4 linked regions of the Homo sapiens genome follow. The protein of the gene in region 3 interacts with the protein of the main gene of each other region in a biochemical or structural test. Each region holds a gene or a part of one and is shown on either strand. Other genes may lie near its edges. The genes, in order: HUS1, LIG3, NEIL1 and XRCC1.

What was found.
Region 1: the proteins of NEIL1 (region 3) and HUS1 form a complex in vitro, tested with the Homo sapiens proteins (one study listed by BioGRID).
Region 2: the proteins of NEIL1 (region 3) and LIG3 form a complex in vitro, tested with the Homo sapiens proteins (one study listed by BioGRID).
Region 4: the proteins of NEIL1 (region 3) and XRCC1 form a complex in vitro, tested with the Homo sapiens proteins (one study listed by BioGRID).

The regions. Positions count from the first base shown.
Region 1 is NC_000007.14:47,962,550-47,969,695, forward strand, and holds the end of HUS1 (checkpoint protein HUS1), read right to left. Parts: intron 6,770-7,146; coding exon 6,670-6,769; intron 5,377-6,669; coding exon 5,257-5,376; intron 2,890-5,256; coding exon 2,807-2,889; 3' UTR 739-2,806; downstream 1-738. UniProt on the Homo sapiens protein: Component of the 9-1-1 cell-cycle checkpoint response complex that plays a major role in DNA repair. The 9-1-1 complex is recruited to DNA lesion upon damage by the RAD17-replication factor C (RFC) clamp loader complex.
Region 2 is NC_000017.11:35,004,512-35,010,561, forward strand, and holds the end of LIG3 (DNA ligase 3 isoform alpha precursor), read left to right. Parts: 3' UTR 1-2,561; coding exon of another isoform or gene 2,562-2,903; 3' UTR 2,904-5,232; downstream 5,233-6,050. UniProt on the Homo sapiens protein: Isoform 3 functions as a heterodimer with DNA-repair protein XRCC1 in the nucleus and can correct defective DNA strand-break repair and sister chromatid exchange following treatment with ionizing radiation and alkylating agents.
Region 3 is NC_000015.10:75,342,070-75,350,268, reverse strand, and holds the start of NEIL1 (endonuclease 8-like 1), read right to left. Parts: upstream 3,231-8,199; 5' UTR 2,796-3,230; intron 2,651-2,795; exon of another isoform or gene 2,479-2,650; coding exon of another isoform or gene 2,243-2,478; intron 1,849-2,242; exon of another isoform or gene 1,623-1,848; intron 1,386-1,622; coding exon of another isoform or gene 1,364-1,385; coding exon 930-1,363; intron 1-929. UniProt on the Homo sapiens protein: Involved in base excision repair of DNA damaged by oxidation or by mutagenic agents. Acts as a DNA glycosylase that recognizes and removes damaged bases.
Region 4 is NC_000019.10:43,572,455-43,579,980, reverse strand, and holds the start of XRCC1 (DNA repair protein XRCC1), read left to right. Parts: upstream 1-4,453; 5' UTR 4,454-4,522; coding exon 4,523-4,573; intron 4,574-4,978; coding exon 4,979-5,071; intron 5,072-7,526. Other genes in the region: PINLYP (phospholipase A2 inhibitor and Ly6/PLAUR domain-containing protein), read right to left, coding at 1,275-1,391, 2,720-2,861. UniProt on the Homo sapiens protein: Scaffold protein involved in DNA single-strand break repair by mediating the assembly of DNA break repair protein complexes. Negatively regulates ADP-ribosyltransferase activity of PARP1 during base-excision repair in order to prevent excessive PARP1 activity.

The sequences.
Region 1 (7,146 bases), on a different chromosome or scaffold from region 3:
TATCTACAAAACAATATAAAAATTAGCTGGGCGCAGTGGCACACACCTGTAGTTCCAGCTACTTGGGAGGGTGAGGCAGGAGGACTGCTTAAGCCCAGGAGTTTGAGACTGCAGTGAGCCATGACTGTACCACTGCACTCCAGCATGGGGGACAAAGCCAGACCCTGTCTCCCTCAGGAAAAAAAAAAAAAAAGCTAAAAGCCAGAATAGGCAAATATATAGAGATAGATATTAGACAAGTAATTGCCTGGGGCTAGGAGGTATATGCTGCGGGAGAGCAGAACAAGGGAGAAGAGAAAAGATGTGCGTACCAAAAGGATGTGAGGCCCTGAGCCCAGGGCAGGTAAGGCATGGGACTGCCTTATTTTACCCTGGCATTTAGGACAGTACTCCACAAACCACAAATTCTTATAAATCACAGCCAGTGAAAGTATGCTCAAAATCCAGAAAGCTCTTTTAAAAAAGGTCTCAACACTTTGAGATGTTAGTCTTGAAATAAGTTAATGTTTCAAATTATATTCATTCCTTTAAATGGATTAAATTGCTATTTCTTGACCCGGCAAAATTTTACCTTGGTAGATCATTCAATAAAGCAGCACTGTGCCCTTCTCTAAGTCTGTGGTGTTGTACCGGCTCCTGCCATCATTTTTCACAGCTCTTTGAGGAGCAAAGAGGTGGAGGACTTGGTAGACACTAAGTAGCAAGTTGTGATAAGAATCAGAAACAGACACCAACTTCTTGAATCTCAACTAAGGTTTCTTTAGCCACATTCTACACAAAGATAAAATCTTAAGCCATTCATTAAAATCTTCAAAATTATATGTATTTGATAATAAACATCACATAGAGCAAATGGTTAAGTCACTAACACATTCTCTTTAACAGCAATTTCAGTTTTATAAAACTACTTTCAGATATTGTTTCATTTTGTATCATGATTTTTAAGTTTTCTCACTGCAGCTGGAATTAATTTCGTTACAATGAGAGGAGGAAGGGTTTAAAAATTAAAACGGTGTCTTCTAATTTTAAAATGTTAATTTAACAAAATATTCCATCCTATTTCAACATTATTAAACATAGGCCAGGCGTGGTGGCTCACGCCTGTAATCCCAGCACTTTGAGAGGCCAAGGTGGGTGATCACGAGGTCGAGATCGAGACCATCCTGGCCAACACAGTGAAACTCCGTCTCTACTAAAAATACAAAAATTAGCCGGGCGTGGTGGCATGCGCCTGTAGTCCCAGCTACTCGGGAGGCTGAGGCAGGAGAATCGCTTGAACTTGGGAAGTGGAGGCTGCAGTAAGCCAAGATCGCGCCACTAGCACTCCAGACTGGCGACAGAGTGAGACTCCGTCTCAAAAAAAAAAACCAAAAAACAAACAAAAAACCATTACTAAACATCAAAAGAATCATTCAAATACACTGGTTTTATCAAAAAACATGAAAAAGCCAAAATATAAATTTTCATGTTAGCTAGTCTTCCAATTTCATTTTATCCTAAGCAACTTAGGTCTCAGTTTTGTAATGTGACATTAATATAATGTTTATGGATGGGTGTGATGGCTGATGCCTGTAATCCCAGCACTTTGGGAGGCCCAGGTGGGCGGGTGGCTTGAGCCCAGGAGTTCAAGACCAGCCTGGACAACACAGTGAGACCCTGTCTCTATGAAAAATTGAAAATTAGCTGGGTGTGGTGGTGCACACCAGTAGTCCCAGCTAGTCAGGAAGCTGAGGTGGGAGGATGCCTTGAGCCAAGGAGGTCAATGCGGTGAGCCATGATTGTGGCACTGCACTCCAGTCTGGGTGACAGAATGAGACCGTCTCAAACAAAACAAAACAAGAAAACAAAAGATAATGTTTATCATGTCCACCTCCACAGGACAATGAGATGTAATTATAATAGGAAATATGATGGGTATGTTTCAGGGAGAATGAGCACATCTACCAGTACTGAATCAGCTTTGATGTTCAGAAACATCAAAGAAATATGGTCTCATCACTTAACACAGATGATACCTTAGAAGTTTCGTTTGTTTCTACTCTAAATAGAAGGGTCTTCTTTCCAGAACGACAGATCCGATACACTGTGGAAGAAAGAAATATAAGGAATTACAACCTAAACCCAAAACTGGCCCCAGGAAGAAACTAGTTGGAATGGCAGAAGGAGCTCCCAGCTAAGAGCTGTGTTGGCTGGGCCAGCTCTCTAGGCATCAAGAGGGGAGTGGACTCAGGTGGGCTTGAGTCCTCAGCAAGAGAGAGACTCCAAATGCTGCAGCTGTGACACCCCACAGTGCTCTGAGTAACCAAGGCAGTGGCGGCGGGGTGACAGAGGCTGTTCTTTCTGTCACTGGGCTCCAAGGGGCAGGAGCAGCGGGGTGAACACACTGAAATGCAAGACTGACTGTGCGCTACAGGCCGTGCTGAGCTAGAGCCTCTGCCTGGAGGGAAAGTACCAAGCTCCCAGGCAACAGCTTTACGAATTCTGGCTACTACACCAAGTCTAAATACATGACGATTTTCACAACATCAATGAGAAATTGTTCTTTAAAGTCTGAATAAATAAATTCTAGCTTTTCTTTTCAGTGTCTTAAAAACAAAGCAAAACAGACATGAGCAACATGAAGTGATATGTTTATCCAACTGTGTGTTGTTGAATCAACTTTTAGTTAAAATGTTAGAGAGGGACAAATAAGTACAGTGTGTCGATGTGCGGTGCTGTGAGGGCACAGACCAGTGATCAGAACACAACACCTGCGGCCTCTCCCATCCTGACAAAGTCTCTGCATGCCAACTCCAGCGACAGGGTGCTAGGACAGCGCAGGGATGAAATACTGAAGGGACACGTCTTCATGAAGCAGATCAAAATGCACCATCTTGTTATTCACAATATCTGGGAAGAGAAAAGCCATGATTTTAGAGACCTAGTGCAGCACACACATTTTGATCTCTACTTTTTCAGAACAGCCTTCCCAGCCTGCACCTCCTGTTTTAGGCATCTGTCTTCCCTGAGGCAGCTGCAGAGACCACAGTCTCTCACTCTCACTGCCACAGCTGAGGCTACATCACGGCCCCAGCACTGGCGGCTCCCTGTGCGAGGAGAGGAAAAGTGAAGCGGCCCAAGCCCTTGGCAAAACACCCAGCAGGCTGGCTTCCTGGCAAACCACATTCACCCACATGAGCATCCTTCTGCAGCGAAGAGCAGCTCCTCACCAGTGAGTGGAGGAACTGTGCTGAGAAGAGCCAAGAGCCAGGATCCCCCAACACCTGGGGCAGGCTGTGTCACACACTGCTACATGGGATGGATCCCTGCATCTCAACGGTCCTGCCAATCCCGTGAGGGCCATGGGTGATGGCTAAAATCCAAGGCATCAGGCATGCAACCAAGCAGGGAAGTAAAGAGCACATGAGGGTGGGCAGGAGCACACAGTGTGACAACCACCGAGAGCTCGGGGAGCTGCAGCACAGCAGCCGAGGAAAGCTCTCCAGCAGATATGAGTGAGTGACAAGAAACCATGTGTGAGCAGGCTGCAGAGAGGCCAATCCCAGGAGATGGGAGGTTGGGGAAAGGACCAGAAAGGACAAGCAGGAGACAAACATTCTTTAGGAGAGGTGGTGCAAGGGCACAGGAGAGGCAGAGACTGAGGGTGGCAGGACCTAGCTAGAGGAGGGGACAATTGAGCCGACACCTGAAGGAGACTAACAGAGACAGAAAAGGGGCTTTGGGAAGTTAAGAAGGTATGAGAAGTTCAACCCACGGTGTTTTAAAAAAAATTTTTGCTACATCACAATTTGCTGGTCTTCCTTTCTCTGCTACACGTGGAGACACCAAAGTGAATGTTGGGAAGACACTTGGCTTAGTCAACCACCTTTGATAAGAACTCTTCCATGTTCCTCAACAGCCTTGGATTCAGAAAGTCCCCAAAATACCAAGTTCAAAGACTGATGTTGTGCAGCGCAGGGGCCCCCCACACCCTGTGTTTCCACACTCTGCAGACAGGAGGGGTATTTCACTCTCTCACCATTCACACTGTGCTTGTCAGGACCAAGGGTCTGGGCATTGTACAGGAGCTTGGGAGAAGTGCAGCCATGAGGCCCAGCCCAAACTATGAATAAGGAGTCCCTTTACATGACCTTCAGGCGATCTCCATGCACATCGAGGTTCTCAGAAGCACCTTTAAGGACCCTGCACTGCCACACAGCTCCCACTATGCTCAGCCCTAGAAATATGACATCGTCCATGTCAAAGTTCCTTAAAATGCAGCACAGGTACCTCACCCCAAAACTCCCCATGATCTGGCCTAGTCTAGCTTCTCCATCTCTACCCTCAGAGCTGCTTCTCTGGCGATATCTCCTTCTGTGCCCATCACTCCAACTGTGTGACACCTTCCCCAATTCCCAAACACCCATTGCCCCTCCCATGGTCTCTTCTGATTCTCTTCATGTCTCTCATTCAAAAGGGCTGGTCCTTGACATTGCCACCTAGAATCTTCTGTTCCTTCTCTACAGCACACTGCAGATCTGAAGGGGATGAGGTGCAGTGTTGGCTCAACCTCCCTCTCAGCTCAGCCTGGGAGCTATGCTACAAAACGTGGAACTTCAAATCCAGGATGCAGTCGCTTTTAGGTTGCTGTGATTTCAGTAGTAAGGTGACAAAAATGCCTTGAAAAGCTCTTGGCAGGTAATGCCTTTCTCATGTGTGGTCAGTAGATGAAGAGTGCTGGAGCAGGTGTGTGACCTCACAAGATGGGGCCCAGCCAGAATCAAGAGGCAACTGTTAACAACCAGCAGCCAAGGGACAGATATGGGGCAGCGAATGCAGGCCAGCATAGCCACAGAAAGGAAACAAGACATCACAAGGGAAAACTTAAATCCAAGCCAAACCGTGTCTGGCACTCTGAGCAGGTCAAATTAGATGACCATGGAGAAGGTGGGATGATCTGCACCCATTCTCCCGATGGCATCTCCAGGTGTGCTGGCCAACTGAGGCAGCACACAACCCACCTACCAACCAGTGTGGCTGCAGGTTTCAGGCCCTAACAGAGTGCCCAGGGGTTGTTTCTCTGCTGCCACCTTAGGTACTTCTGAATCTAGGAAAATTTAAAAAACCCCACTGTTCTAGGAAGTTAAAGTCCACATAATTGAGCTTTTTTTTTTTTTTTTGGATTTATGAGACTATATGCAATCTGTTAGACTAGAGTTGACTGCAGTATTTAGAATATGAAAGAATATGAAAAACAAAACAGAGAAGCACACTCACTGCATAAGGCCTTTGTGGGATTTACTTGTTGTCCAGCAAGAAACTGTAGGAGCTTCCTAATATCTATGTGCACTTCAGCCATGTGTTCCACGTTTCTGTCCTCATGGGTGCTTTCAGAGGCTAAAATGATAGGAATGCATTTAAATACAACATCTTCCCACGTAACAGGAAACCTGGAGATACTCAATGCATTTTACTTAAATAAATGATTCACTTTAGCACTGATTTTAGCATCCTGAAGAAATATTGCAACTTGTAAATGTTGTCATTCATTAAGCATTAGGTCCTAACTATTTAAAATACTATGATAATTTCCAAGGCATCTTTATTTACAGGGGACTTGAAATATAACTCAATCTCCCTCTTCAGGTCAAAGAAAATTTTATTTATTTGTACTTACTATGTATTTTAAGAGTGAAAATATATACATTAACTAATACAAGGCCTGTCATTCTGGAGTGGAATTAAAAAAAAAAAGAAAACATCCTTTCTACCTCTGAGAAAGTACCAAAGATAAGTCCCACCTTATGTTTATTAAAAGAAACAAAATGAGTGACATCAGAATGAATCGCTTTACACAATATTATCAAAGGCATAACCGTATGGATTTCACTCTGCTGGAGCAGGATGCTCTTAACTAGAAAGTAAAAATTCCTTCCAACTCTATGCTAAAATCTGTGTTTATATTCAAGCAGACTCGTAGTAACTTAAATGTGACTAGGGCCGATTTTATTGGTTCTGGCACACTTATGTATCATAAAATGATTTTCTCATCATCCCCAGGTGTTTCTCCCCTGGTCCTTTACCTGCTTTCCTGCTCAGGCAGCCCCTGCTACTGTGCAGCTGCCACTTTCCAGCCATGATTCTAACCCCCTCTTGGCTTATAACTCACCAAACTGTCCAACCGTCCCCTCTCTCCCCACTTGCTGAACTGACTCTATCGTCCCTTATTACCTTGTATGAGATAAGAAATGTGATCAAGTGAAACAGTTTTGCATCTGCTACACTAATTTCATACATATGGAAGTAACTGAAGGAGGAGAATATAAGAACAAATGTATCTACCTTTCTGAATCCATGCCAGGTGAGAAATAGAAATCTTTAGGAGTAGGACAGGAATTGAATAGCTGGAAGGGATCTTGGAGGTTATGTAACTTGATCCGAATTCTACAGAGGATGGAGACCCTGCACAGATCTGTCAGCTACTTGGTGGCACAGCTTCTCCCCCTGGTGGCTAACTGCCCCACTACACCACAGGGATACATAGTCCAGTCTCAATTCCTTTGTTCTTCACCCAAGCATGAAACAAAGTCAACTGAATTTCAACCTTTTTACATGAAGAGACCTCAACAGGTAGGTTATCTGAAACAATTAACTTATCCAAAGCAAAATATAACCCACTAGAAAACTTACCTAATGGAGGATTTCCAAGATCTTTAAAATGAGTTGTAACACATACTAATTCAGTTTCTATTTTCAAATTCAATTCTCCATCTAGGTTTGCTTCAATAACCTGCAAATTGAGTATTTTACATAGTCTTAGAAAAGGAAGCCAAAAGGAAAAAAACTCCATGGGCAACAGCTTTCACACAACCAGATGACAAAGTACCCTACAAAACCTCAAAACACCTCAGAGCACACTGAGACCCCCGTGCTATCAGGGAAAGTGAGAAGATAAGGCCCAAGAGCCAAGAACTCAGAAATCTCCCAAAAATCTCAAAGGGGAAGTCCCCCTGCCTGCCTCCCGGAATGAAGAACTCAGTGAAGATGTGAAAACAGGTGGAACTCCGAGAGGACTTGCCAGGAGACTACAGCAGCACAAGGGCAGGGCTCTAGGGAGGGCTGGGTGGAGCTGATGAGAACTCCCTCACAGCAGGAGAGAGTCCTGCA
Region 2 (6,050 bases), on a different chromosome or scaffold from region 3:
CTGTCTTCCCTCTCCCTCAGGCCATACTCTCCTTTACCATACTACTGGACTGGACTCAGGCTGGAGGCAGATAGACACAGTATAGGGGGAATGGGCTTGCTTCTCCCAAACCCACCAGTTCTCCACTGTCTCTTCTGGACCAGGAATTAGTTGCTGTGGGTGCCACAGCTGAAGTCAGTTTGTCTTGCTGGTTTAAATAGATCTTTCAGAGCTGGGTGCTGGGTTTGCCATCTTTTTGTTTTCTTTGAAAAGCAGCTTAGTTACCCTTTTTATAAATAAAATATCTTGCAGTTATCTTTGTCCTTTCCCCACCTACACCCCCAATAATTTCCCTAGAGATTAAGGAGTAAAGGCTGGGCTATGGCAGCTCTGTCCACAAAGCCTTCTCTCCCATCCTTGCCTGTTCCTTTGTACTTCCAGGCTCATTTTAAAGTTGTATTTAAAGGACTGCCCTCGGAAATGCTTCTGTTTAGCGGAACTTGTATTCAGCCTGACACGCTTTGCCAGGAACAAACCTCATGTGAAAGAAAACAAAATGAATTTTTTTACTTTCTTCTCTGTGTTCTCCTATTACATGGTGAGGATCCCCAGTTTGAAGGGAGGGGACTAGGGTCAGGTAGGAAAATGGGGCCTTTATGAAGAAAGGGGAGGTTATTTGGGCCACTCCTCTGGAGGGATAGAGGGCTCCAGGAAGATCTGCATCCCCAAAACCTGGAAACAAGACTGTTCTTTAAGAATAAAAATCCACATGGGGCTTGAGGCCAAGAACAGCCCTTGTTGCCACCAACATGGAGACTTTGTACCATATCCCATTCTTAGTGCTCGAGTGTTCCAACCTGAAGTTGAAGAAGCCACCCTGGCTGCACATGCCATCAGCCATGACTGTGTATGCTCTGGTGGTGGTGTCTTACTTCCTCATGACTGGAGGAATAATTATATGATATTGTTGAACCCCCAAGTATTGGCTGATGAACGTGGGCATCAGAGGCCAGTAGCTTTCTTGGCCTACAAAGTAAATGGACAGTATATTATGGAAGGATTTGCATCCAGCTTCCTGTTTACAATGGGAGGTTTAGGTTTCATAATGCTGGACCAGTCGAATGCACCAAATATCCCAAAACTCAATCGATTTTTTTTCTTCTATTCATTGGATTCGTCTGTGTCCTACTGAGTTTTTTCATGGCTGGAGTATTCATGTGAATGAAACTGCCGGGCTATCTGATGGGTTAGAGCGCCTTTAAGAAGAAATCAGTGGATACTGGATTTGCTCCTGTCAATGAAGTTCTAAAGGCTGTACCAATCCTCCAATATGAAATGTGGGAAAGAATGAAGAGCAGCAGTAAAAGAAATACCTAGCGAAAAAAACAGGAAGCATATTGAAGCTCGGACTAGAATTTCTTCTTGGTATCAGAGAGACAAGTTTATCACAGTATTTTTTTTTTTCCTGCTGACCTATTGATAATACCAACAATGTTGAGTGGCATTTTCTTCTTAGTTTTTAATTTCTTAAAGAAAATATACTCCATATCTGCAGGGAAAAAAATAAAAATCCACACCTGAGAACAGATCCATACAACCTGCTTACAAAGAACAGCTCCTGTGCTACCTGAGGCTGATTTATTTGAAGAACAAAAGGAAGAGAGACAATTTAGTGTAGACAAGTGCTATTCAATAGAACTTTTTGCAGCAGTGGAAATATCCATAAATCTGCAGTATCCAACCAAACTAGCCACAGACAGCTGCTGAGCAATTGAAATGAAGCTGGCACAACTAAGGAACTGAAGTTCTTATTTTAATTCAACTTCAAATGGTCACATGTCACTAGTGACTACCACACTGGACAGTGCAGGTGTAGACGGAGTTCAGATCAGACTCCTGAAACTTAATGGCTCTAACCTTAGGCAAGTTACGTTAACATCTAAGCCTCAATCCCTCCAAGTAGAATGGGTGCACCTAAATCATAGGGTTGTCCTGTTGTCCTGAGCAACATTATGTAAAGCACTTAGCCCAGAGCCTAGCACATAGTTATCTAGAGTTGGGAACGTCACTCCTGGTGTGCATGTCCAGACCCTACCCGGGAGAAGGGCCTAACCTATGACTTTAGAACCCTCAGTTGCAGGTGTGCATGTTCCAGCCAACACTCCACTCTGAGTGCAGGCTCATCAGGACACCATATGGTTGTAAACTGGCTGCCATGTCCCAATCCTTCCAGCTCTTGAGGGTCAGTTCTCACCTTATGAACAAATTAACAGGCTCTGGACCTATAAGATCAAGGACCACTGCGCCCCCTGGCCACCCCACCGCCCCCCCCCAACTTTGATCTGATTGACTTTGGCTTCCACCTACTGTTTAAAATGTGTATGTTGGGGGAGTAGGGACAGCACGGGGGAGGGGTTTACTTTCCTGACTCTAGCCCAGGACATTTGGTGTTTTTGAATAGGCACCATTCAGCCTTGCTTCAGTATTAGGAATAAGATACTTTTTATTCCATCCTCTATGGAGACAAAAAGCTGCTCCTCCTTTGAGTACTGACCTACATAGATTTCCATTTCTCTCTTCAGCCTCAGGCCAAACAAACAACCGGACAGGGCAGCAGAACAAGGCTGTCTCCTCAGGATCCTGCCAAAGGCACTGTCCTCTCCAACCTGGACCCAGCCCCACTTGCCCTTATTGGTTGCTTACACCCAGAGTGCACACTCACAGGAAAGGGCCTCTGCTGGCTGCAGGTGATCATCTTGTCCCTTCTCTGCCTTAGTGTGTGTTATTGCCATTTCAATGTCAGTGGTTTTTTATGTATTTTCTTCCAGTCTTTGCTGCTGAGATCTGACTGTATATACTATTTTGTATCCTTTCATGTATTTCTTTCATGTATTTCAATGCAGCCCTCAACATCATCATCATAAATCTCTCCAGCAGAATGCTGGAGGCCTCCCTCTTCTGAACCTCTACATGCTGCTGGCTGGCATCAAGCAGAGGTCATCACTGGGTGCTGAACAGGTCAGCTCCCTAGGGCAATGTGAGCAAAGTGTTGTGGCTCATCCTCGATCCTTTATGCCCTTTTGGCAAGATTCCTTTCTCTTCTCAGTCACAGCAGATGGACACATAATCTTGTTCTCCCAGGGGCTGCATTCTCAGTAGTCTTTTCCCTGCTCCTTGGGCGCCTGGTCAGGGAGGTTTGTACAAGCCTGCGCACACACAGCAGTCTGTCACGAGGCTGGGCCAACCTTTTTTTTTTTTTTAAACAGACTCTTGCTCTGTCATTCAGGCTGGAGTGCAGTGGTGCAATCTCAGCTCACTGCAACCTCTGCTTCCCGGGTTCACAAGCAATTCTCATGCCTCAGCCTCCCAAGTGGCTAAGACTTAACAAACAGGCACACACCATCACTCGCAGCTAAGTTTTTGTATTTTTAGTAGAGACCACGTTTCGCCATGTTGTCCAGACTGGTCTCAAACTCCTGGCCTCGAGTCATCCACGCACCTCAGCCTCCCAAAGTGCTGGGATTACAGGCGTGAGCCATGGCGCCCAGCCTGGGCCAACCTTTTCTGAGCCATAGTCCAGCTGTACTACAGCTGTATCCAAAAGGTACCATGTATCTCCCAGGGTAACCTGAAGACCTAACTGGGCATACTAACTGTCCTCAGATTTCAGTTCTTTAAGGCCCATCTCTTCTAGATCAGTGTAAATATCTGAACTCACTTGGTGCTTCAACCCAATTGGTCTTGGGATTCATCCTTTACCTACCCAGCTCTCATTCTCTTCTAGGTTGTTCCATGGCCTCTTCCATATATTACATTTGTGGTCTTGAGCAAGTTAGTTAGTTACAACAACACTGAGCATCTTGACCAAGGTCACTTGGCCCAACCACAGGCTAATCCCAGGCCATGTGCACATCCCAGGATTAGCTTGTGGTTTATCAGTTGTCAATTTTTTTTTTTTTTTAATACAGGGTCTCACTCTGTCACCCTGGCTGGAGTGCGGTGGCGATCAGAGCTCACTGCAGCTTCAATCTCCTGGCTCAAGTGATCCTCCCACCTCAGCCTTCCAAGTAGTTGGGACTACCCACATGCACCACCATGCACGGCTAATTTTTTGGTTTTTTTGGGTTTTTTGTTTGTGTTTTTTTTTGTTTTGTTTTTTGAGACAGAGTCTCGCTCTTTCGCCCAGGCCGGACTGCAGTGGCGCAATCTTGGCTCACTGCAAGCTCCGCCTCCCGGGTTCACACCATTCTCCTGCCTCAGCCTCCCGAGTAGCTGGGACTACAGGCACCCGCCACCACGCCTGGCTAATTTTTTGTATTTTTAGTAGAGACGGGGTTTCACCGTGTTAGCCAGGGTGGTCTCGATCTCCTGACCTCGTGATCTGCCCGCCTCAGCCTCCCAAAGTGCTGGGATTACAGGCGTGAGCCACCGCACCCGGCCCTTGTTTGTTTTTTTAAGTAGAGACAAGGTCTCACTACATTGCCCAGGTTGGTCTCAAACTCCTGAGCTCAAGCAGTCTTCCCACCTTGGCCTCCTAAAGTGTGGAAATTATAGCATGAACCACTGTCAGGCTCTTTTGTCAGTCCTATCAACCTCTAACATCCTCGCACCAGACAGGACAGGTGTCTGTATTGAAACTTTATTACAAAATTATAAAGCAGAGCTCTGTAACAAAATAATACACATTTGGGTTTGCTTTAACCTCCAAGTAAGTCTGAGAAAATCTTAATAAAAGCCACTTGAAGTAACAATTCACATCCAAGAGATTTCCACAAATTTATACAATGTATATTGAGCACTAGTTCCTGTACAGCTTATTCTTATTAGTTTGGATCCAACTATTCCAATGTATTATGAACCAGTCAGCTATCTGTCTTTTGAAACAAGTCTTAACTGAAATCTCAGAGTAATCAGCAAAAGCTACGGAATAATTCTAAGAATTAGATGTTTCCATATCATTAAAACCAAGGATCCATGAGGGGCAGAAGGGAGGATTCAAAGATTTAAAAAAAATCAAATTTTAGACCTTGGTTAAATATTAACTGGAATGGGATCTTGGAACTCCCAACTTTAATTTGGTGTAATAAAAATGATGCAAAAAAAAAAAAAATCAGGGTTGTTTGACACCTTTTTTCCTAAAGGGAAACCTTCACCAAAAGGGGATAAAAGATTTAAAGGCAAAATGAGTAAACAACCTCAGTTTTAATTCTTACTGAGGTTACTAACCAGCTATCAGTATATTATTTTCGATTTGTGTCTAGGAGGGAAACTGAAGAGGAGGTAAGGCTTCAGCAGAGAAAGCAGGTTGTAAGTAGAGAGCCAGCTTCTGCCCTTAAGTTACTGCTAGATCTTAGCTGAATTGCACATACATAGACCTGTTTTACAGAGGAACTGAGTAGCTGAATGAATGATCCTTTGCTAATTGGTAGGCATTGTAAACTATAGTATTTACTGCCCATGACAAAAGTGGAAAGGGATGTCTTCATGAGCAAATCTGATTCCCCCAACTCCTGCAAAGGCTGTGGTTCAGAATCAAATCATCCAGGACTTTGTATAACATTGAGGTAAGTGGCCCAGTGTTCAGTTGACTAGTTTATGCAGTTATTTCATTCCTCCAAAGGGGTTTAGTGGTTGGTGATGGAAGAAAGCATAAATATGTCTGTACCAATGTAATAAGTCCCTTTAGAGGTTTCCCTCTGCCATCCAGAGTCATGATTGGTTCTAGTCTCAGATTTTTCAGCTGCATGGGAGGGGTAAGGGGTGGGAGGTGTCTGCCAAGGCGTTTAGGGTTTGCATAGTTCATCCATTGGTAATGGGAAAACACTCTGCTTTCCTGATCATGTGTTTTGTGCTTGGCCACGCTTCTGCAGCAAACTCTTAAGTCCTCCAGCTCCTCTAGGGGTGTAAAGACTGTGAGGGCTCAAATACATCACCTACTCATTGCATGGTCCTTCCTAAAGAGCCTAGAAAATGGTTTCTCCTGCTGGGTGTGGTGGCTCACGCCTGTAATCCCAGCACTTTGGGAAGCTGAGGCGGGCGGATCATAAGGTCAAGAGTTCAAGACCAGCCTG
Region 3 (8,199 bases):
GAACAAGGCCTGGCATGAAGCAGAGACTCATACACGTTTCCTCTTCAGAGGAAAGGAAGTGGCCAACACTGTGCCATGTGAGGTGACCTGCATCACATCCCAGGTGGGGCTGTTACACCCTACTGCAGGCAGGGAAGTGGCGCAGAGGAGACCACAGGACACAGAATACTGGGCAGGCCGGATGTGGGAGACCACAAAGCCCAAGGCGGAAGCCATGTCATGAGATAGTCCCCTCCCCATCCCCTTGAAACAATTCCGCTCAGCCTCACTTACCATATTAAAGCCCCTCCACCTTCTTAGCCTCCTGGGAGCCCTGAGAGGTGGTGTGGGATTGTGGGTGGGAGCCCCAGCTTCTCTGACACTAACTGGCCACATGTCCTCAGGGCAGTACCTACCCATCCTCCTCTTGGCTCTCCTCTCTCCTCCCCCATCAGTTATTATTATCATTATTTTTTGAGACAGAGTCGTGCTCTGTTGCCCAGACTGGAGTGGAATGGTGCTGTCTCAGCTCACTGCAACCCCGGCCTCACCGGCTCAAGCGCTTTTCCTGCCTCAGCCTCCCAAGTAGCTGGGGTTACAGGCATGTGCCACCATGCCCGGCTAATTTTTGTATTTTCAGTAGAGACAGGGTTTCACCATACTGGCCAGGCTGGTCTCGAACTCCTGACCTCGTGATCTGCCCGCCTCGGCTTCCCAAAGTGCTGGGATTTACAGACTTGAGCCACCACACCCGGCCCCCAATTAGTTTTGAGTTTCCATGCCCACTGGCTCAGGGAGCTGACCCAGGACAGGTATACTGTCTTGATCTGCAGATGAGAGAACTGAGGCCCAGAAGGGGCAGGGACTCGCCCCTTGTTGGCCAAGAAGGCACTAAGAGAGTCAGGTGTGGAGCCCGCGACTATGTTCATCACACCTGGTGCTGGCCCTACCTGAACTGCTGGTACTCCTGCAAGACACAGGGCCCGCGGCCCGGCTGCCACTTTCCCCCAAGGTCCCAGCGGCCGAACCGGCGGATGTCCACGAAACATAGGGCGAGCCGGGGGCCAGGCGGGGCCGTGTAAAAGCGCAGGTGGGCATGGCGTGGCAGCTCCTCGCGGGGCACCAGCTGAAAAGAGCCGGACATGCCGAAGCGGAAGACCAGGGCCAGTGGCTCCTGTTGGGGCTGGGCCCCAGGCAGAGGGCTCAGTATCAGGCGCAGCTCCTTGCCGCGGGCTGAAGCTGAGATGCGGTAGGCACTGCTCTCAAAGGGCACCTCAGGGTTGCGGCTGACAGAGGACTTCTCCACGCAGCCGCCGAACACCAGCGCCCTGCAGGCCTCATTCACAAACTGGCTGGCCAGGTGCAGCTCGGGGCCCTCAGGCATCCTGAGGGAGGGTGGCAGAGTCCTGTTGGGGAGGAAGGCAGCGGGTTGAGCCCGGTGTGGACTTTGTGAGGTAGCGGCTGTCAGCCCCATTTTTAGAGGAGAACTCGGAGGGTCAGATGGGCATGTGGCCAGCTGCGGCTGGCAGGAAAGTGCGGGCCTGGCCACGGCCCTCAATCCCCTACCCGGACAGGTGCCTGGAAAGCCCAGGGCGCTGGGAGCTGGGGCTGCAGAGGGAGCAGGACTCTGCCTTGCTGCTAACCGCTTCCTTCCATGGGCTTCCACCGCGTTTAGACGAAAGTCCCAATCCTTGCGGGGCCGCGGCTGCAGCCTTACTTCTTCCCGGCTCCCCTCACTCACGGATCTCATCTCCGCCTTGGCCCCTGCTGTCCCTCTGTCCCAGACACTTGAGGGAGACTTCCTGACCCCCCATCTGAGGGAGCACCCCCTCCGCACACGCTGTCTCTTTCTCCAGGCTCTCCCACCATCTGAAAGGGTCTTAGGATCGCGTGGCCGCCCCTCCCTGCGCCCCCCTCCCCCCACACTTAGGACCCGCCTGGATCTGGCCGCTCACCACCGAGGGAAAGAGCGAAGCTCGGCCTGGCGCGGGGGAGCGGCGGGAGCGGCCGAATCGGCCGCTTGGCCGCAGCGAGAACCGGGCCTGCCCCACGGACCGGACATCCCCGCGGCCGCCCCCGGGTCAGGGCAGGGGCCAGGACGAGGCGGGCGGGCTGCCGCCATGCGCTGGAGCCGCTCCCCATGGCTCCGCAGGAGGACGGCGGGCACCAGGAAGGGCTCCCCGAGCTCCTGCCCCGGGCCTGGGGGAGGGAAAGGGCCCGCGGCAGCGCCTGGTCCCTGGGGTGGGGGGTATCGACTCCTCACCTCCGCCCTCCCTGCTTTGCCACTTGCCTCTGTCCCCGGGCGGTTCGGAATCGGAGGCGAAGGTGTGCCTTAAGTGGAAGGGGGCACTTAGCGACGGCAGACGCCCGTACCTTGCCCCCTCCACACCTGGGAGCCGCCCCTGGCCTGGCACCCACAGGGCTCGTTTTGCGGGAGAACGTGAGGCTCCAAATCCTAGTTTTGGGGAGGAGCGGCGCTCTCGGGCCCGTCCTCCCCATGCCCCCGCTGCGACCCTGTCCTCGGTTAATCCTGACTCCCCTCCTCCTCAGGGCCCCCCAAAGCTCATCTTCTCCTTAGCCCTACAGCGCACCCCCCACAACCCGATCCTGCACGCCCCCTCCCCGGGAACCCGCACTCCGTTCCGCTCGTCGCCACTGCAGCCACTAAAGGGTTAACGCCAGAACGGGCGGTGCCCGGGAGCGCGCTGGGAGCCGCTGGGAGGTGTAGTCCCTCAGGGAAGCGGTCGCGATTCTTCGGGGTGGGGTCCCCGAGCTTGGGGGGTTCCAGGCTTTGGGGCAGGCTTCGGGGCAGTTACCTGGCTGGGAGGTGGCGGAAGAACCTGACTTCCCACTGCCTGGCGCCGGCGAGATGCGGGGGCAGGTCTGAGGCCCCGGGTCGCCGCTGTCTCTGCGGTTGGGGGAAGTCACCCAGCTAGCGTGGGACAGGGTCGGCACCCCCAGCAGGAAACAGCAGCGACGAGCCAGAGCGGAGTCGCCTGCAGCTGCGCGCAGGACGTGCACAGGTGCGCGGTACGCACAGGCCCTAGGGACCCGGTGGGGATCTTAAGCACCAACGAACAGTCAGACCTAACTCATAAACAAACATCATCACGGCCTGCCCTGTCAGAAGCGCAGCCAAGCAACAACAACAACAAAAAAAGGCGAGGAGGTAGACCCACTTGAGATGGTTCTGTTGCGGAGAGTCTCTGAAATCAGAAAGCGCCAGTCCGCAAAAACGAGGAAACCCGACGTGTCCGGCGGAAGGAACCGCCAGTACAAAGGCCCTGAGGCGAGAAAGAGATTGGTCACTGAAAGAACTCAAAGAAGTCCTGTGTGGCTGGAGTATAGCTGCGGGTTAGTGCTGGCAGGTGAAGACAGAGAAGCAAACCCAGGTCAGGTCCGGTTGGGCCTCGGGAGGGCCTCCGTGTGGAGTCTGCACTTCATTCTAAGTGTATACCTAACCCATCGCCACGATTTCCCCTCCTTCACACTACCCTGCTACGTCTCCTTATTAGGCGTAATAAAATTATGTGGCTTTGTAAGAAATTGGTTTTTAGAGATGCATGTTAAAGTATTGGGTATGAAATGTCATGATTTGTCTAATTTACTTTAAAATACTTCTGCCATAATAAATGAATAGAATTAACAACTTGATATTAGTTGACAATATCTAATAATATCTAAGTTATTAGAAATTAGTTAACAGTAACTTCTTTTTTTGAGACAGGGTCTCACTGTGTCACCCAGGCTGGAGTGCGGTGGTGAAATCTCGGCTCACTGCAGCCTCCACTTCCCGGGTTCAAGTGATTCTCCTGCCTCAGCCTCCCGAGTAACTGGGATTACAGGCGTGTGCCACATGCCTGGCTAATTTTCATATTTTTAGTAGAGATGAGGTTTCGCCTTGTTGGCCAGGCTGGTCTTGAACTCCTGACCTCAAGTAATCTGCCCGCCTCGGCCTCCCAAAGTGCTGGGATTACAGAAGTGAGCCACCATGCCCAGCCAACAGTAACTTCTTAATATCATCTAATAGCTAGTCCACATCCAGATTTCCCCAATTGTCCCAAATATATATATATATACACATATAGACAGGGTCTCACTCTGTCCCCCAGGCTACAATCATGGGTCATTGCAGCCTCCGACCTCCCGGGCTCAAGTGATCCTCAGCCTCAGCCTCCCAAGTAGCTGGGACTACAGGCACACACCACCACGCCTGGCTAATTCATGTTTTGTAAGGATGTGGTCTCACTATGTTGCCTGGGCCAGCCTCAAACTCCTGGGCTCAAGCCATCCCCCGACCTCGGGGTCCCAAAGTGTTGGGATTACAGGCGTGAGCCACCGCGCCTGGCTGGATTATATCTTTTTAATAATTTTAAATCTAGATGAAACCACCTTCCCTCTCCCACCCACTTCATCCCCTTCTTTTATCTTCATGATACCTTTCTGAAGAGTCTCAGCCAGTTGTTGTTTGAGATAGATGCTGCATCACATTCTCAATTTGTCTGAATGTATCCTCAGGGTGTCACTGATATTGTCACAGAGATTGGTCCTCTATCTGTGGTTCATCCTGCATGCTGGGAATTAGATCTAAAGGCTTGATTATATAAATATTCAGGGATACTTCCTAGGTGCTGCTCTGTACTTCGTTGTTTTTTGTTTTGTTTTGTTTTATTTGAGATGGAGTCTTGCTCTGTCACCCAGACTGGAGTGCAGTGGCACGATCTTGGCTCACTGCAACCTCTGCCTCCCAGGTTCAAGTGATTCTCTTGCCTCAGCCTCCTGAGTAGCTGAGACTACAGGCATATGCCACCACTCCCAGCTGATTTTTGTATTTTTAGTAGAGACGGGGTTTCACCATGTTGGCCAGGCTGGTCTCAAACTCCTGACCTCAGGTGATCTGCCTGCCTCGGCCTCCCAAAGTGCTGGGATTACAGGGATAAGCCACTACGCCTGGCCACTGCTCTGTACTTTGAATTGCATCATATCAGGAGGCACCCAATATCTCATTGTCCCACTTTATTGGGAGCTGAAACTGATCAAGACAGGGGCTGTGGCAGCCAGACCTCTGCATTAGAAAACATATGGTTCATACCTTGTGAACACCAAATAATCTATGGAGTAATTTCTTTGTTGTTCTCTTGTTTAAATAAAGGTATAATTTACATATAGTAAAATTTACCCCTTTCAGACTGCAATATTTGACAAACACATAGTCATGTAACTGCCACCCCAATGAAGAGATAACACACATTGAAGCATTATTCCCAAGATGTGGAAACAACCAACCGATACATGGATTTTTTAAAATGTGATATATAATAGGCTGGGCATGGTGGCTCATGCATGTAATCTCAGCCCTTTGGGAGGCCAAGACAGGAGGACTGCTTGAGCCCACGAGTTCAAGACCAGCCTGGTCAACATAGGGAGATTCCATCTCTATATAAGAAAAGAATTAGCATAGTGGTATGCATCTGTAGTCCCAGCTACTCCAGAGGCTGTGGTTGGAGGACTGCTTGAGCCTGGGAGTCAGAGGCTACAGTGAACTGTGATCATGCTGCTGCACTCTAGCCTGGATGACAGAGTGAAACCTTATCCCCATCCCTGCCCCCCTAAAAAAAATGTGGTATATGATGGAATATTATTCAGCCTTTAAAAAAAGGAAATACTGCCACATGCAACAACATGGGTAACCTCGAAGACATTGCACTAAATAAGTTGGTCACAGAAGGACAAATACTTAGGCTGGACACAGTGGCTCACGCTTATAATCCCGACACTTTGGGAGGCCAAGGCGGGTGGATCACGAGGTCAGGAGATCGAGATCATCCTGGCCAACATGGTGAAACCCCGTCTCTAATAAAAATACAAAAATTATCCAGGTGTGGTGGCGGGCACCTGTAGTCCCAGCTACTTGGGAGGCTGAGGCAGGAGAATTGCTTGCACCCAGGAGGCAGAGGTTGCAGTGAGCTGAGATCGTGCCACTGCACTCCAGCCTGGCAACAGAGCGAGACTCTGTCTCATAAAACAAACAAGCAAAAAAACCCCAGAAAGACAAATACTTCATGGTTCCACTTATATCAGGTACCTAAACAGTTAAACACACAGAAGCAGCAAGTAGAATGGTGGTTGCCAGGAGCTGCCGGGAAGGAGGAAATGGGTAGTTGCTATTCAATGAATATAAAGTTTTGGGTTTTTGGCCAGGCGCAGTGGCTGATGCCTGAAATCCCAACACTATGGGAGGCCGAGGGGGGAGTGAATCACTTGAGGCCAGGAGTTCAAGACCAGCCTGGCCAACATGGTGAAACCCCGTCTTTACTAAAAATACGAAAGTTCGCTTTGAGATCCTGTCTCAAAAGAAAATAAAGTTTTAGGTTTTTATTGTTGTTTTTGAGACAGGTCTCACTCTGTTGCCCAGGCTAGAGAACGATGGTGCAATCTCGGCTCACTGCAGCCTCGACCTCCCAGTAGCTGGGATTACAGGTGGGGGCCACCATGCCTAATTTTTTGTATTTTTAGTAGAGACAGGGTTTTACCACGTTGCCAAGACTAGTCTCAAACTCCTGACCTCAAGCGATCCACCTGCCTTGGCCTCCCAGAGTATTGGGATTACAGGCGTGAGCCACCGTGTCCAGCCTCAAAGTGATTTTCTAATTGTCATTCTTAATATATTTGATAGAATCCATCTGTCAAGTATAGCTTTACCTCATTGACCAGGGCTATTTGGTTATCCTGACTAAAAAGACAGGATAACCTCTTTTTTATTTTTTTTGAGACAGGATCTCACTCTGTCACTCAAGGCTGGAGTGCAGTGGTATGATCATGGTTCACTGCAACCTCGAACTCCTGAGCTCAGGTGATCCTCCAACGTCAGCCTCCTGAGTAGCTGGGACAATGGTGCATACCACCACACCTAATTTTTGTATTTTTTTGTAGAGATGGGGTTTTGCCATGTTGCCAAGGATAGTCTCCTTGTGATTTTTTTATCACTTTGTTTATTCCCAGTTTTCATTTTTGCTTCTTCTTGCCCAACTGTGGCTGGTGGAGCATTTTTTAGAATACCAGTTTGACTTATCTATAGTTTTATTTTTAATTGACAAATAATAATTGTATAAATTTATGGAGTACAGTGTGATGTTTTGTTACATGCATATATTGTGGAATGATCAAATCGGCTGGGCACGGTGGCTCATGCCTGTAATCCCAGCACTGTGGGAGGCCGAGGCAGACGGATCACCTGAGGTCAGAAGTTTAAAACCAGCCTGGCCAACATAGTGAAACCCAGTCTCTACAAAAAATACAAAAAATTAGCCAGGGGTGGTGGTGCATGCCTGTAGTCCCAGCTACTACAGAGGCTGAGGCAGGAGAATCACTTGAACTCGGGAGGCGGAGGTTGCAGTGAGCCAAGATCACGCCACTGCACTCCAGCCTAGGCAACAGAGTGAGACTCTGTCTCAAGAAAACAAAAAACACAAAAAAAGATCAAATCAGGCTAATTAGGATATCCATTACCTCAAATATTTATTTCTTTGTGATGAGAACATTTAAAACCCTCTTTTAGCTATTTTGAAGTATACATCATTATTAACTGGTCACCACGCTGGGCAATAAATCACCAGAATGTACTCCTCCTAACTGGAACTTTGTACCTTTTGACCGGTGTCTCCCCTTTTCCCCACAACCCACCCTCTCTCTCCTCCAGCCTCTGCTAACCACCATTCTACTGTCGACTTCTATGAATTTAACTTTTTTTTTTTGAGACAGGGTCTCACTGTCACCCAGGCTGGAGTGCAGGGGCACTATCATGGTTCACTGCAGCCTTGACCGCCCTGGCTCAAGCAATCCTCCCACCTCAACCTCCCAAGTGCTGGAACCACAGGCATGTGCCACTGCACCCGGCTAATTTTTTTACTTTTTGTAGAGACAGGTTTGCCATGTTGCCCAGCCTGGTCTCGAACTCCTGGGCTTAAGTGATCCTCCCACCTTGGCTTCCCAAAGTGCTGGGATTACAGGCGTGAGCCACTGCCCCAGGCCCTTTTTTCAACTCCAGGCATAAGTGAGGTGACGAGGTATTTGTCTCTCTGTGCCTGGCTTATTTCACTTAGCATCATGTCGTCTAGGTTCATCCAAGTCACAAATGACAGAACCTTCTGCTTTTTAAGGGCTGAAAAATATTCCAATGTGTGTATATATACATTTTTTTTTTTTTTTTTTTTTTTTTTT
Region 4 (7,526 bases), on a different chromosome or scaffold from region 3:
TCTCCTCCATCATTTTTCAGGTCTGGGGTGGTCTCTTTCATTTAACTCATGCCCATCTTCTCTCTTCCATTTTATTTTCTGAGACAGGTTTCCCTCTGTTGCCCAGGCTGGAGTGCAGCGGTGTGCACTTAGCTCGCTGCAGCCTCGATCTCCTAAGCTCAAGTGATCCTCCTGCCTCAGCCTCCCAAGTGGCTGGGACTACAGGCATGTGCCACCATGCGCAACTATTTTTTTTTTTTTTTTTCTGTAGAGATGGATCTCTTTTTGTTGTCCAGGCTGGTCTCAAACTCCTGGGCTCAAACGATCCTCCCACCTCAACCTCCCAAAGTGCTGGGATTACAGGCGTGAACCACCGTGCCCGGCCTCCCTTTCATTTTACTCATCCACATCTCCCCCTCCCTGTCTCTGCTTCTCCTCTTTACGATGATTTGCTCAGCCAGGCACGGTAGCTCATGCCTGTAATCCCAGCACTTTGGGAGGTCGAGGCGGGAGAATCACTTGAGGTCAGGAGTTAGAGACCAGCCTGGCCAACATGGCGAAACCCCGTCTCTACTAAAAAATACAAAAATTAGCCAGGTGTGGTGGCACGCACCTGTAATTCCAGCTACTCGGGAGGCTGAGGCAGGAGAATCGCTTGAACCTGGGAAGTGGAGGTTGCAGTGAGCAGAGATCGCGCCATTGCACTCCATCCTGGGTGACAGAGCGAGACTCTGTCTCAAAAAAGAAAAAAAATGATTTGCTCCATACTTCAAGGTTATCATCCATCTCCTGTTTGGGGTGATCCCTTTTCTGTCTCTTCCACCACTCCAACACTCCACCATCATCTCTCCTCCCTCGGTCAGGAATGACCTCTTCCCTGATTACACTTACACTTTCCCACCCCAGCCCAGCCTCTTCCTTCTCTATCCACTCCCCACCATTTCCACCTCCTGCCAGTTAGATTCTTCCCCTCTCACTATTTCTCTGCCCCCCACAGTGTCTTTCCTTACCCCTCTTCTGCCTAAGAAAGTCTATTAACTCTCACCCCTCCCACATTTTCCTTCTCTTTAGGACAGTGTCATTTTCAGAATTCTGTGACAATAATGATTTCTATCACACCACTTATTTCTGTTCCCTCCATCTCATGATGGTCTTTCCCTCTTTCCTGCTCTCCACTGATTTCTTCCCACGCTCCCGTCTTGAGAACCATGATGATCCCCCCTCAGCATGGTAGTCTCTTCCACCCTGAAGGTACACCCCACCTCCCCACCAGGTCCCAGGCCACATCCTCTTACTTGAAGTAGCCTTCCCGACCAGGAGCACACATGTGTCCTTGTCACTGCTGCAGGTCTTCATTTGGCCATGGCACCTGCTCCCCGCCGCCGTACATATTTCGCAGTGTAGTGGGCACCCTGCAGTGTAGACAGAGGGCGAGGCTGTAGTCATGGGTGGTGTGGTCTTCGGACCACGACTTTGACTTAGGACTTTTGTGTCCTGAGAGAGGAGGGACCAGCAGCTCCCTGGTTTTTCATGGGCGGGATGTTGACCACTGCCCAAGGAACTGTCCAGAGTTGGACGAAGAAGCAGTGGTGATGCCAGCAAAGCTGCTTCCAGGGGCGGGAAGCGACTCCACCATGAAGCCTGTTTGCCTAATTACATGGCTGGGGATTTTGGATGCCAGGGTCCGCTGAGAAAGCTCAGGGGCAGGGAGGGGTCGTGATGGAGGTTTCCATGGACTTTTGTGAAACTTCAGGTCCAGCTGGTTCTTGAATGTGGGATTCTCCTCCTTGAAGGTGCCATGTAGGTCTTGTAGACAGCAGGAGCTCAGGCAGGGGGCCCTGAGGCTAGGGTCTGCATCCCAGGTCAAGGAGGGAGAGTGAGGACCAGGAGGGCAGAGGACTTGAACTTCTTGGTTCTGAGAGAGGGGACAGCTAGGGGCCCAGAAACCTGGGTCCTGGGGAAAGTGAGGCTTACTTGGACTCCTGTGTGCAGGGGAGGAGGGGGCTGGGGCCTGAACTTCTTAGTCTAAGGAGAAAGGAAATCTCTCTACCTCTTTTAAAAAAATATATCATATGATATTAATGTATTTTTTTTGAGATGGAGTTTTGCTCTGTCACCCAGGCTGGGGAGTGCAGTGGCACGATCTTGGCTCACTGCAACCTTTGCCTCCCAGTTTCAAGCAATCCTCTCACCTCAGCCTCCCAAGTAGCTAGGATTACAGGCGCCCACCACCAAGCTCAGCTAACTTTTTTTGTATTTTTAGTAAAGACGGGGTTTCACCATGTTGGCCAGGCTGGTCTTGAACTCCTGACCTCAAGTGATCCACCTGCCTCGGCCTCTTAAAGTGCTGGGGTTACAGGCATGAGCCACCGCACCTGGCCTTCTCCCTCTTTTTTTTTTTTTAATTATATTTTTAAAGATTTCCCTTTCCAGCCATGCTCTCATCTGATTTCCTAGAATTGAGATGTGTTTGGGATCCTTCCTGGAGGATGGAGGATTCAGAGCCCACCAAGCCCCTCTCTCAGGGATCCAATCACAGGAGCTTTTCTTCTCTGGGACCCCCAGGCTTTCTCTTCCTTTACCCTTGGCCTCTTCCATGAATCTGAATTTCCAGAATGCCTCCCCGTTCACCTTGAGGACTTGCTGAAGGCTCTTTCTCTCTCTATATCTCTCTCTCTCTCAATCTGGGACCTCTCTCTTCCTGAGGTCCCAGAGACAGTTCAGGTCCCTTGTCACTTACCAAGACCCAGGAGGGTGCAGAGCAACACAAAGGCCAGCAGAAAGGTCTCTGGTCTCCTGGAGAGCCTCATGGTGTGTGTATCAGCAGTACCTGGTCCCCAGCTTTTATAGGAAGCTGAGGAGGGGTGGGTCTGGACCCACATTCACCCTACGGGGAGAAATAGCTGAGGTCAGAACCCAGGGCAGTCCTCTGTGGCCTCCGGGTTGGGAAGGCAGAACCAGAATCCAAAAGTGACCTGGGCATCTTGTGCCCAGCCCCCCACCTCCATGGAGACCCCAGGAGTCTGGGCTTCCATCCCCCTCTTCTATTAGAACCCAGAAAGTCACCACCCTGTTTTCTCACCTTCCCACGGCCCATTGTTGTTTGTTTGTTTGCTTGAAGACCAAGACGGAGTTGGGCCTCTTGATTCCCAGTGGCTGCAAGAACTGGGATTCCCTCTCCTTCTCTCTCTTCCCCTCTCCTCCCAAGGAAGCACCCAGTGTGGGTAGGGCCCCACCTTGGAGCACCCAGCATGTCCAGGCTGGTCCTGCGGGTGCGGGGTGCCTTGTCTCCCTTCCCCTCTCTTCATGTGCTCGGCTCACACTCCTTGTGTGTTTGGGCTGTCTCCAGCTGCGACCCCACCCAGGGCTGCACCCTTGGGTCTCCAAGGCACCGAATGAACAGAGGGATGTCTGTCGGCAGTCATAGGCGGGCGTAGTAAAAGACAGATGCCCACAGTCCACATATTGGGAAACTGAGGCTTTTGTGGAAGAACTCCAGGATAGGGGTGTGTGTGTGTGTGTGTGGTGGGGGTTGGGCACATGCTTTGTGTTATATTTAGGACGCAGAACCCTTCTCTTTTGGCCTCAGGCATAAGGCTGAAAGAGATCTGCTAATTTTTTTCGCGCGTGCGCGCGCGCGTATGTATGTATATGTGCGTGTGTGTGTGTGTGGCAAGGGGACAGAGAGAAGAGTGCAGCCGCCTGAGCCATTTGAAGAGATCCTGTTGCGTAGAATCCAGGTTCCCTACGAAACTACGAAAATTCACTCAGATTTGCTGTCCTAGCCCAGCGCAGTCGCTCACGCCTGTAGTTCCAGCACTTTGAGAGGCCGAGGCAGGTGGATCGCTTGAGCTGAGGAGTTCGAGACCAGTCTGGGCAACATGGCAAGACCCGCCGCCCTCTCACCCCATGTCTCCACAAAAAATACAAAAATTAGCCGAATGTGGTGGCGCGTGCGTGTAATCCCAGCTACTTAGGAGGCTGAAGTGGGAGGATCCCTTGGCCCCAGGAGACAGGGGTTGCAGAAAGCCGAGATCGTGCCACTGCACTCCATCCTGGGTGAGAGAGCAAGACCCTGTCTCAACAAAAAATTTTTAAAAAATAAAATAAATAATAATACAGCAAAAAGATTTGCTTTCTCGGCTTCAGTGTGGGCGGTAACTCCATCGTGCAATGAGAAAGGCGAATTTCTTCCAGACACCAATCCCGGAGGTCGCTTCTGTTGCTAGGCTCCCAGAAAGCAGGGTTCGGACGTCATTGGGAGGCGAGGCTAGAGCGGGGTTGTGTGTGGCGGAGGGAGGCGGGGCTGGAGGAAACGCTCGTTGCTAAGGAACGCAGCGCTCTTCCCGCTCTGGAGAGGCGCGACTGGGCTTGCGCAGTGTCGACGCCGGCGCCGGCGCGCCGGGGTTTGAAAGGCCCGAGCCTCGCGCGCTTGCGCACTTTAGCCAGCGCAGGGCGCACCCCGCCCCCTCCCACTCTCCCTGCCCCTCGGACCCCATACTCTACCTCATCCTTCTGGCCAGGCGAAGCCCACGACGTTGACATGCCGGAGATCCGCCTCCGCCATGTCGTGTCCTGCAGCAGCCAGGACTCGGTGAGGGACCTGCATGGGGGAGGTTGGAAGACGTGAGGGAATTAATGAGGATAGCTCTTAAAAGAGCTTTTGGGGTTCTCTTGGAAGTCTAAGGAGAGTCATGGGGGGATTTCCAGGAGGCTAAAAGTGAATTGTGGAGAGATGTTGAATTAGGGACGTTCCGGCGTCTAGGGAACTTCCGGAGAGAAAAGGAGGAATAGGGAAGCTTTCTTGGAGAGCCCATAGGTGAACTTCCACGGGAAAGTGTTGTAGGGGAAACTCCAGGCAGAGTGTCGGGGGATTAACGGGAGAGCTTAAATCTGGGGGTCGTAGAGGCCTTGGGAGGACTCAAAGGAATCATCTGAGAGCTGGAGGCCTAGCTGTCATCTCTGTGCCCTAATTCTCCTCTCCCACTGTTGTTTCCAGACTCACTGTGCAGAAAATCTTCTCAAGGCAGACACTTACCGAAAATGGCGGGCAGCCAAGGCAGGCGAGAAGACCATCTCTGTGGTCCTACAGGTGATCCTGCCACCCCACCTCCTCCTCACTAGGAGTCTGGAGTCCGGGGTTCCAGATTCTGCTCCTGAGCCAACTGGCAGTGGGTTTAGTCACTTTCTTTGCTGGGCCTCAGCTTCCTTACTCGGAAAATGGGCAGCATAATCCCTGTGCCCCTCAGCAGAGAGGAAAGGAGACCCAAGGATTAAGTCCAGGATGACCACAGGAATCAGTGTGTGGTCCTGGGCAGGTGGCATCTACTTTCTGGGTTCCAGTTTCCTCAGCTGGAACAAAATGAATCATTGCCACGTACTCTGCCTCCTGCAGCCAGTGGGCTCAGGGCTGGAAGGTGTCCAGGAAGGTCGTCTAAGCCAATCAACTCCACTTTAAAGAAGGGGAAACTGGCCGGATGCCGTGGCTCATGCCTGTAAACCCAGCACTTTCAGAGCCTGAGATGGGAGGATTGCTTGAGCTCAGGAGTTCCAGACCAGCCTGGGCAACATATCAAGACCCTGTCTCTATTTTTATTAAAATAAATAATTTTTTTTAAAGAATAATAGCCAGGTATGGTGGTTCACACCTGTAATCCCATCACTTTGGGAGGCCGAAGCTGGAGTATTGCATGAGCCCAGGAGTTTGAGACCAGCCTGGGCAATACAGTAAGATGTCATCTCTACCAAAATTTTATAGATTAGCTGAGTATGGTGGTGTGCACCTGCAATCCCAGCTACTGGCGAGTCTGAGGTGAGAGAATTGCTTGAGCCCAGGAGATGGAGGCTGCAGTGAGCTGAGATTGTGCCACTGCACTCCAGCCTGGGCACCAGAGTGAGACCCCCAAAATATAAAAAATAAAATAATAATAATGAGAGCTGGCATTATTCAACGTTACCTGTCAGTCGCTGCTCTACACACCTCACTCACATGGATTAGCTCATTGAGTCCTCATAAAAAACCCCAAGAGGCAGGCTCTGTTATCCCCACTTTTACAGATGAGGAAACTGAGGCCCAAAGAAGTTATACAATTTGCCTGACAGTCAATCTTTTATTTATCTGTTGAGACAGAGTCTCACTCTGTTCCCAGGCTGTAGTGCAGTGGCATGATCTTGGCTTGGCTCACTGCAGCCTCTACCTCCTGGGCTCAAGCGATCCTCCCACCTCAGCCTCCTGAGTAGCTGGGACTGCAGGTGTGCACCACCATGCCTGGCTAGTTTTTTTTGTATTTTTTTAGAGATGGGGTTTCCACCATGTTGCCAGGCTGGTCTCAAACTCCTGGGCTCAAGCGTTCCTCCTGCTTCAGCCTCCCAAAGTGCTCGGATGACAGGCATGAACCATTGTTCCTGGCCTGGGGGCTGCTTTATGACTATAAGGAGCAGAACACTCTGTGGATAGTGCTAGGGTGACGGAAAAATTAACCTTTTGTGAATGGGCAGTCATTCAGCAAATATCCACTCCTCTCCCTCCCACTGGAGGGGGAGTATATTTCCCTGCTCCATTGATGAGTTTGACCATATGATTTACTTAATGGAATTTCAGCACATCTAACTTCAGCAAGGGCCTTAAATGCACTTGGCTTTTGTGCTCCCATAATATGCCATGAGAACATTTGCCAGGTTACTGCTAATCCCAGAAAACTGTGGAATCTCATGGAAGAGACCTGAATCCTCCCAAACTGCAGCCAAAGCAGCCATCCCACAAATTCTTATAAGAATGCTTGTTGGTATAAGTCTCAGTTTTCATGTTGGGAGGTCGAGGTGGGTGAATCGCTTGAACCCAGGAGTTTGAGACCAGCCTGGGTAACATGGGGAAACCCTATCTCTACGAAAAATTATAAAAAATAGCTGGGCTTGGTGGCGTATGCCTGTAGTCCCAGCTACCAGGGAGGCTGAGCGGGGAGGATTGATTGAGCCCATAAGGTTGAAGCTGCAGTGAACTGTGATGGTTTCACTGCACTCCGGCCTGTGAGACAGAGTGAGACTGTATCTCAAAAAAAAAAAAAAAAAAAAAAAGAAAAGATCTCAGTTTTAGGATGATTTGTTACACAGCATTATTACAGTGTAAGTTAATACAACTTGGTTGTTTTAAACCACTGAGATTAGGGACTCCTTTGTTACTGTAACATCATCTGGTCCACCCCAATTGATGTCAGTGTTTAGTGCCTGTCAACTAATGGCCTCCACTTCCCAGGTTCAAATGATTCTCATGCCTCAGCCTTCTGAGTAGTTGGAATTTACATGCCTGGCTAATTTTTGTATTTATAATAGAGACCGAGTTTTGCCATGTTGGCTAGGCTGGTCTTGAACTCCTGACCTCAGGAGTTCAAGGCAAATGAGCACCAAATGCTAATTTAAGTGATCCACCCACCTTGGCCTCCCAAAATGTTGGGATTACAGGCATGAGCCACTGCACCTGACCTCAGTCTTTTAAACTGTGATAGATACAGATTGCTGACAGTTTTAGTCTTGAGATCTAGATTCAAGCC